Homo sapiens: one gene and its partner. The protein of the gene in region 1 interacts with the protein of each later gene in a pairwise test. Each region holds a gene or a part of one and is shown on either strand. Other genes may lie near its edges. The genes, in order: MKKS and BBS12.

Evidence for each region.
Region 2: the proteins of MKKS (region 1) and BBS12 interact in binary tests that used the Homo sapiens proteins (3 or more experiments, as listed by UniProt).

The regions. Positions count from the first base shown.
Region 1 is NC_000020.11:10,432,577-10,436,497, reverse strand, and holds the start of MKKS (molecular chaperone MKKS), read left to right. Parts: upstream 1-2,275; 5' UTR 2,276-2,390; intron 2,391-3,921. UniProt on the Homo sapiens protein: Probable molecular chaperone that assists the folding of proteins upon ATP hydrolysis. Plays a role in the assembly of BBSome, a complex involved in ciliogenesis regulating transports vesicles to the cilia.
Region 2 is NC_000004.12:122,735,539-122,739,459, forward strand, and holds part of BBS12 (chaperonin-containing T-complex member BBS12), read left to right. Parts: intron 1-3,834; exon of another isoform or gene 3,835-3,921. UniProt on the Homo sapiens protein: Component of the chaperonin-containing T-complex (TRiC), a molecular chaperone complex that assists the folding of proteins upon ATP hydrolysis.

The DNA of each region.
Region 1 (3,921 bases):
GTAATCCCAGCTACTGGGAACGCTGAGGCAGGAGAATTGCTTGAACCCGGGGGGCGGAGATGGCAGTGAGCCAAGATCGCGCCACTGCACTCCAACCTGGGCAACAGAGCGAGACTCCATCTAAAAAAAAAAAGAAAGAAAGAAAGGGCTGTATCTTTAGCCCATGCCCTGAATCAATGTTCCTTGAACTTTAAGGTACACTTCTTGAGGAAGATTCTGATTCAGCAGCTCTGGGGTGAGAGTCATGAAGTGTAATTCTAACAAGCTCCCAGGGATGCTGATGCTGGTGGTAGGTGAAATGAACTTGGAGCAACAAGGCCCTAAGTAACTGGAATATTAGTTTTAACGCTAGCCAACTGGCTTACAAATATCGTTATGTCTAGGATCCAAGAAGTAAGTGTCAATACCATTAATTCCTACACCCGGCCAAAAAAATTAAAAACTAAAAATAAAAAAAAATAGTTCAGGGGAAGGAGAAAGCAAATACTTGTTTATACAGTCTAGCAGTGCTAAGAACCATAAAATACTGTTATTTGTCTCAACCTAGTAGATGTCAAGGTGATAAAATGTAGGCTCCATGAGTTAATGGATTTTTTTTAGCTAACTCCTGAATCCTTATGGCCTAGCACAAATTAGGTACTCAAGAAATGCAATGAATAAATGAATGAATGGGAAGTATATACAAACGCAATCTGTATTTACCTCACATCTCCAAAAATGTCTGGGAAGGGGGAGGTATTTGTACTGCTGGATGCAGGTAGCCATGATTTGATACAAATACCTGGCCCATCTACTGCATTCCCTTTGTGCAAAGACAGTTAACTTTCCTGAATAATATCTCCACCGTAATGCCCATGCTCATGGCATCCTGATGTTTAGCAACTTTTTGGCTTTTTGAAAACAATGAAGAAAGGTGGAAGTACAGGGAGAAGGATTCGGAAAAGTCTCAAAAAATCAAAGCCAAAAACCAGGAGGGAGGAGATGGGCAAACAGTTCAGTTCACTTGAAGGAACATCTGAGGTTGTCAGAGGTCCATGTGCTTACCTATGATGGTGGCGGGGTTTGGGCTCGGGCTTTATATGTTTTGTTACTGTCCAGGGTCACTGGCGGAGTAGTACCTGGCTGTGGAAACTCGGACTACACAGGTAGCCGGAACTGCAGCCAACCTTCAGAAGCTTAAGGGAAGCACTTTCGCGCTTACTTCCTCCTTCCCAGGGTCTCCGCGCGCGTTTGGGAACTCAGCCGCCGCCCAAACACAAAATGATCTGGGCAGCTTCGCTGCAGGATTGAGGCCACAGCCAGGATTTAAGATGGCAGCGAAACACTTCGATGGCCCGTGGAATCTGCCCAAAAGAAAAATGGCCTCTGTTCAGAATATCGCGGCTTTCAAAGTGGGCCCAAAACAAAAATGGCGCCGGACGCAGGCTATTTTTAAAGGCTGGGACCCCAATGACTCTCATTAGCAAATAACGTATCATGGTAACTCACGGTGCTAGGCAGTTGAACTGACCGAGAGAAAAAAAAACGCTTTTCTGTGGTGTGTTTTCTTAACATTGGAAAATGACTAGCTCAAGAATGGAACATATATTCGGTGCGAAAGATTGTGAGAAAGGAAAGGTAGCTTTCACAGTGCCGGATAAATTTTAATAAAAATAGCCATGTTTGAACATAACTTCCTATATGTTTTTTAATGTTAAAAGAGAATAAAAGTTTTGTCCTGGAACCCAGAAGCAGGATGGGGAAATGCCGGGTGAATTATCTAATCTGTGAAGAGTACGAGCTGCGAAACTCCGCACTTCCCTGTAAGCCCTCAGGAAGGACTGAGGGCGGATGCTTTAGTAGAAGGCAACTAGCTCTCACGGCGCATGTCCGTTTTCCAAACCCGATCCCGGGAGTTACGGGAGAGTAAAAATCCTGATTTTCCAGACAACCGCACAGAGAGGCGGGATACTGGCGCTGAGCGACAAATCCAAGCGCTTTGTAATTGGTCATGTCAGGACAGAGAGCAGAGCGCAGTGGACTATTTCTTTCTTTCATTCAATAAATCATTGTCAAGCGCTCACCAAAAGGCAGAAGCTGTGCCATTTTGATATGTTATTTAAATTTTATGCGTTCTTTTAAAATTTCAGTTTCAACAATTTGCTGGAATATACGCTGAATAAACTTCGCTCCCCGTTTTTTCCGGTGACGGCCGCTGTTGGCTGGAGCTTCACGGAAAACCCGGAGAAGCGGAGTGGGGGCGGCCCGGCGTCGACCGCAGAGCTGCGCGTGCTCCGTGCCCTCGCGCGACGCGAAGGTTGTCGGGATCCGCGGCAGCAGCGGCTGCTTGAGATCTGTTTCTGGGGCCTCTGGCGGTGGCGGCCTGGGGCGGCGCGACGGCTGGTGCGCAGGTGAGAGCGCTGGGACTCTAGGTGGAAAAGCCCGCTTTGTGTCCGGCCGAAGAGAGGGGAAGGGGCTTGTAGGCGCCTCCCTCTCCACCCCCAAAGGTCACCGGTGTCCTCACTGAAGGATATTTGAGGGCGGGGACAAGGAGGAGGCTGGCTCTCTGTAGGAGGCGAAAGACCGACCTCTGAAATAGCTGCCGATGGTAAATGTTGCGGTCGGCACGGATGCGGGCGGCGAGGAGGTCTTCCCGCCGGTGGGGAGAGCTGGAGGAGTGGCGCCTCACCACGCTCCCACCTGCGCTGCCGCCTTCTACGCCGAACCTGTGACTCCCCGTCCCCTCCCTCGCTGGGAGGGGCCCCGTGTGCCCCTGACTGTCTGGAGGGTGCACGGTGTACCCCAGGCTGTCGGGAGGTGGGGGCCGCCCTCCGACGGCGTTAGAGACGTTGTGCAGCGTGGCCCTGCCAGCTACGTGAAAGCAGCCGCGGGGCTTGCAGGGCTGTGGACCTTGTAGGGATGACCCTCTAAGGTCATGCTCGTCTTCCTCCCCGATAAGACCATACCCAAATCCTGTTGCCGTTTCAGAGACTCAATATGACGGTTTCATTCATTCATTAACATCTTCAGTTTATCCATAAACAGATATACACGTGTCTACAGCACTGCCGAGTTAGTAGATACGGCAGTGACCAAGAGGGACTTGCACGGTCCTGACTCCATGTTCTAGTGATGGGGGAGAAACAATACGCTCCCTATCCATGAGTTCCGCATGTGTGAATTCAACCAACTGCGGATAGAAAATATTTTGGGGCGGCGGGGTTTGGTGGCTCACCCCTGTAACCCCGCACTTTAGGAGCCCGAGGCGGGCGGATCACTTGAGTCAGGAGTTTGGGGCCAGCCAGGCCAACGTGGCGAAACCCGGTCTCTGCTAAAAGTACAAAAAAATGAGCCGGGCGCAGTGGCGCACGCCTGTAATCCCAGCTACTTGGGAGGTTGAGGCAGGAGAATCGCTTGAGCCCTGGAGGCGGAGGTTGCGGTGAGCGGAGATCACGCCACTGCACTCCAGGTTGGGCGACAGAGACTCTATTTAAGAAAATAAATAAATAAAAACATTCTGGGGGAAAAAAGATGGTTACATCTGTACTGAACACGTGCAGACCTTTTTTCTTGTCATTCCCTAAACACTGCAGTGTAACAACTACTTACATAGCATTTAACGTTGTATTAGGTATTATAAGTAGCCTAGAGATTATTTAAGGTACATGGAAGGAGGTGGCAAGTTGTGTACAAAACTACACGATTTTTTTTTTTTTTTTTTTTTTTTTTGACAAAGAGTCTCGCTCTGTCGCGCAGGCTGAAGCTGGATCTCTGCTCACTGTGCAACCTCCGCCTCCCGGGTTCAAGCAATTCTCCCTGCCTTAGCCTCCGGAGAAGTTTGGGATTACAGGCACCCGCCACTGCACCTGGCTAATTTTTGTATTTTTTAGTAGAGATGGTGTTTCGCCATGTTGGCCAGGCTGGTCTTGAACTCCTGACCTC
Region 2 (3,921 bases), on another chromosome or scaffold:
GGTGCCAAATAGGAATCAAGTCAACTCCAAGGATGGTTAAAACTTATATTCATGTTGGAGAAATACTAAAAGTACCGTCTGTTTTCTCTTGCTTCAGTTTTGTACTTAAATTTGGGGGAACAAATATGGTGAAAAAAATTCATTCACTTACCAAATATTTATAGAGTACTTGCTGTGTGTCAGGCAATATTGTAGGTACTCGGGATATACATCATTGACTAAAATTGCCTTCCTGGAAATTACATTCTAAGAGAGAGATGTAGTCTATAAAAAATAAATAAGTAAACTATATCCTATTTTATAAGGGAATAAGTGTTATGGGAAAAAGAAAGTATAACAGATGGAACAAATCCAGAGTACAGAGGGAAAAGAGGATTTGTGGTATTCTATAGAGTGCTCAGGGTAGGCCTCATTGAAAAGCAGAAAATTTGAGAAAATATTTGAAGGTGATGCAGCAATAGATTTCTTAGGGAAGAGCATTCCAGAAAGAGGGAACAACTAGAACAGAAACATTAAGATAGGGAACATGCAAAGCATTACAAAAAGAGGCCAGAACAAAGTGGCCAAGGGATAAAATAGTAAGTGATAAAGTCAGAAGGGTAAAGAAAGGACTGCAAATAGTTAGGGCATTGTAAGGACTTTGACTTCGACTCCAAGTGAAATGGGTAGGCCTTGCAAGATTTTGAGCCTAGGAGTGAAAGGATATGAGTTCATTTTTAAAAGGGACTCCTGTGTCAAAGGCATAAAGCTTTATTTTCTGAGTTAGAGGTTTTTAAACAGTAGAGTGACATGATTAGACTTCTGTATTGGGAATAGACTGGAGATGAGCAAACAGTTGATTTAGATAATAAAAGGCTAATCATGCCCATCAAGAAAATATTATAATTTTTCAAAATGCAGCTCCTGAAAGCATTGCATGTCTTATTACTCTAAACTGAGTACCTTAGACAAAACTGGACATAATCTTTTGAAAAAAAAAACTTATTCTGATGTCAAAATTCCAGTTAAGTTGTCTGACTCTGCTCTTCCATTACACACTTAGAAACTCAAAGAAACATTAAGCTGGCAAGTACTGAAAACAGAGAACTGTTTGTGGAAAACATTGGTGCATAACAGGACATGCATAGCAGGACAAGAATCAGATTGTGTCTGTGTAATGCCAAGAAGAGTTGCCAGAAGTACTTATCATCTTTGAAATTATCCACTTTGTTATCCCCTTTGCTGTTTTTGCCTTTTTATACCCCATCTCTTAGAGGATGGGGCATTTTTGTTTTGAGTTTTTATATTATGTTAATTATAGCCGACTGTAACCTGTTCAAAATAATAATTTAGGAGCTCTTCTAGAGTTGGGAATGCTGAGAATTTTTAAAAATTACTAAAACTTGGAATAGCTTTTTCAAATGCCAAAGCAGATTTGTCTTGAATATTGATTTTGATATCAGTTTTATGTGACTTTTTGCTTATACATTAGTTTTCTTTAAATAATTTCATGCCTTTTGTATCTAGGAAACTTTTTCACATAAATTAAATACAGATTAAATTTGAAATAGCCCATGACTGTTTCCATTCGCTCTAAGTTCTCTCTGACTTTTCTACTCGTAGTAATATCTTGTGATTTAAGCATAGTATAGAAAGGAGATCATAAGCAGAGACCCTGATACATGTACAAGTTAAGAGTATGAATAAGGTTTGGAAGAAGGCAGAAAGGTTTGGAAAAGGGAAACACAGTAAAAGATTCTAAAGAAGAGAGGGTGAATTACTATCATACTGGGCAAGGGGCACCTAAAAGGCAGAATTATATAGTAGTTAATAGCATAGGCTTTAACATTAGACAAACCTGGGTTTTAGTCCATAGCCTTTTACAAATTAGCTGTGAAATTTTGTATATGTTATGTAACTATTCTGCTTCATTTTCCACATCACTAAAATAGATTATAGTACCTCCCTCATGTTGTTGTGAATGAATACTACATTACATAATACTTGTAAAATGCCTCATACTTAGTAAGCTTTCATAACATGTTCGAAATGAAAAACAAAACCCAAAAGTCAATCTTTTCAAGCTTGTCCTTTCAACAAATTATTCTGGAGCAACTGGATATCCATGAGGAAAGAGGAACCCCTACCTCACACCATTTACAAAAGTTAATTTAAGATGACTTATGGACATAAATATAAAAGCTAAAACAAACGGAAGAACAAATTTGGCATCTCATACTTCCTGATTTCCAAACTTACTACAAAGCTATAGTACTTAAAACCTGTGGTACTGGCATAAGGATGAATGTATAGATCAGTGGAATTGAATTGAGAGTCCAGAAATCCATAGACATCTATGGCTAATTGATTTTTGACAAAGATGCTAAGGCCACTCCATGGGGAAAAGAATTGTCTCTTCAGCAAATGGTACTGGGACAATTGGATATCCACATGCAAAAGAATAAAGTTGGACTCCTACCTTACACTTTATATGTAAATTAACTCAAAATGGGTCAACAAACTAAATATAAGAGATGAAACTATAAAACTCTTTGAATAAAACATTGGGCTAAATCTTCATACCTTGGATTTGGCAATGGATTTTTAGATATGGCACAAATAATATGAGCAAACAAAAAAATAGGTAAATTAGATTTCATCAAACAACAACAAAAAAATAGGTAAATTAGATTTCTAATTTCTTTTTCTTTTTTTTTGAGACAGAGTCTCGCTCTGTTGCCCAGGTTGGAGTGTGCAATCTCGGCTCACTGCAGGCTCCACCTCCCGGGTTCACGCTGTTCTCCTGCCTCAGCCTCCTGAGTGGCTGGGACTACAGGTGCCTGTCACCATGCCCGGCTAATTTTTTTGTATTTTAACAGAGACGGGTTTCACTGTGTTAGCCAGGAATGGTCTCGATCTCCTGACCTCATGATCTGCCCACCTTGGCCTCCCAAAGTGCTGGGATTACAGGCGTGAGCCACTGTGCCTGGCCTAGATTTCTAATTTCTAACTAAAAACATTTGGTCATCAAAATGCATAATCCAAAAAGTGGAAACTGACTTACAGAATGAGAGAAAATGTTTGCAAATCATAGTTTGATAAGGATCTAGTGTCCAGAATGTATAAGGAACTCTTACAACTTACCAAAAAAAGACTAACTGCTCTATTTTTAAATGGTCAAAAGACTTGAATAGACATTTCTCCAAAAAAGATACACAAATGGCCAATGCACATGAAAAGATGCTCAATATGAGGAAAATGCAAGTCAAAAACACAATGAAATACCACTTCACATTCACTAGGATATCTATAATATTACAAAATATTACAAAAGCAAAAATGGAAAGTGTTCAGTATACTGGACTGAATATTTCCCCCCAGTTCATGTCCTTCTAGCATCTCAAAATGTGATCTTATTTGAAAATAGTTTCTTTGTAGATGTAATTAGCTAAAGTGAGGTCATACTGGATTAAGGTGGGCCCTAAATCCAATGACTGGTATCACTGGATTATAAGAAGGCTGTTTGAAACAGAGGCAGAGGTTAGAGTTATGCAGTCAGAAGCCAAGGACCACTAGGAGCAACTAGAAGCTGGAGGAAGCAAGGAAGGATTCTTCCCTTGATCCTTCAGAAGGAGCATGGACCTGCCAGCATTTTGATTTTGGGCTTCTAGACTCCAGAACTGTGAAAGAATAAATAAGTATTGTTTTAAGCTACCCAGTTGTTTGTGGTAATTTGGTATGGCAGCCCTAGGAAGCTGATGCAGTGAGGATGTGGAGAAATCAAAACCCTCATACATTGTTGGTGGGAATGTTCAGCTGTTATGGAAAACAGACAGTTCATTCAAAAGTTAAAGATATTTGCTCCTCCTTTTCATGCCTGTGGCTGGATGTCCCACAGCACTATAGGAAATGTGAGTCAGGCCTTTTGCATTAAGCAACCAA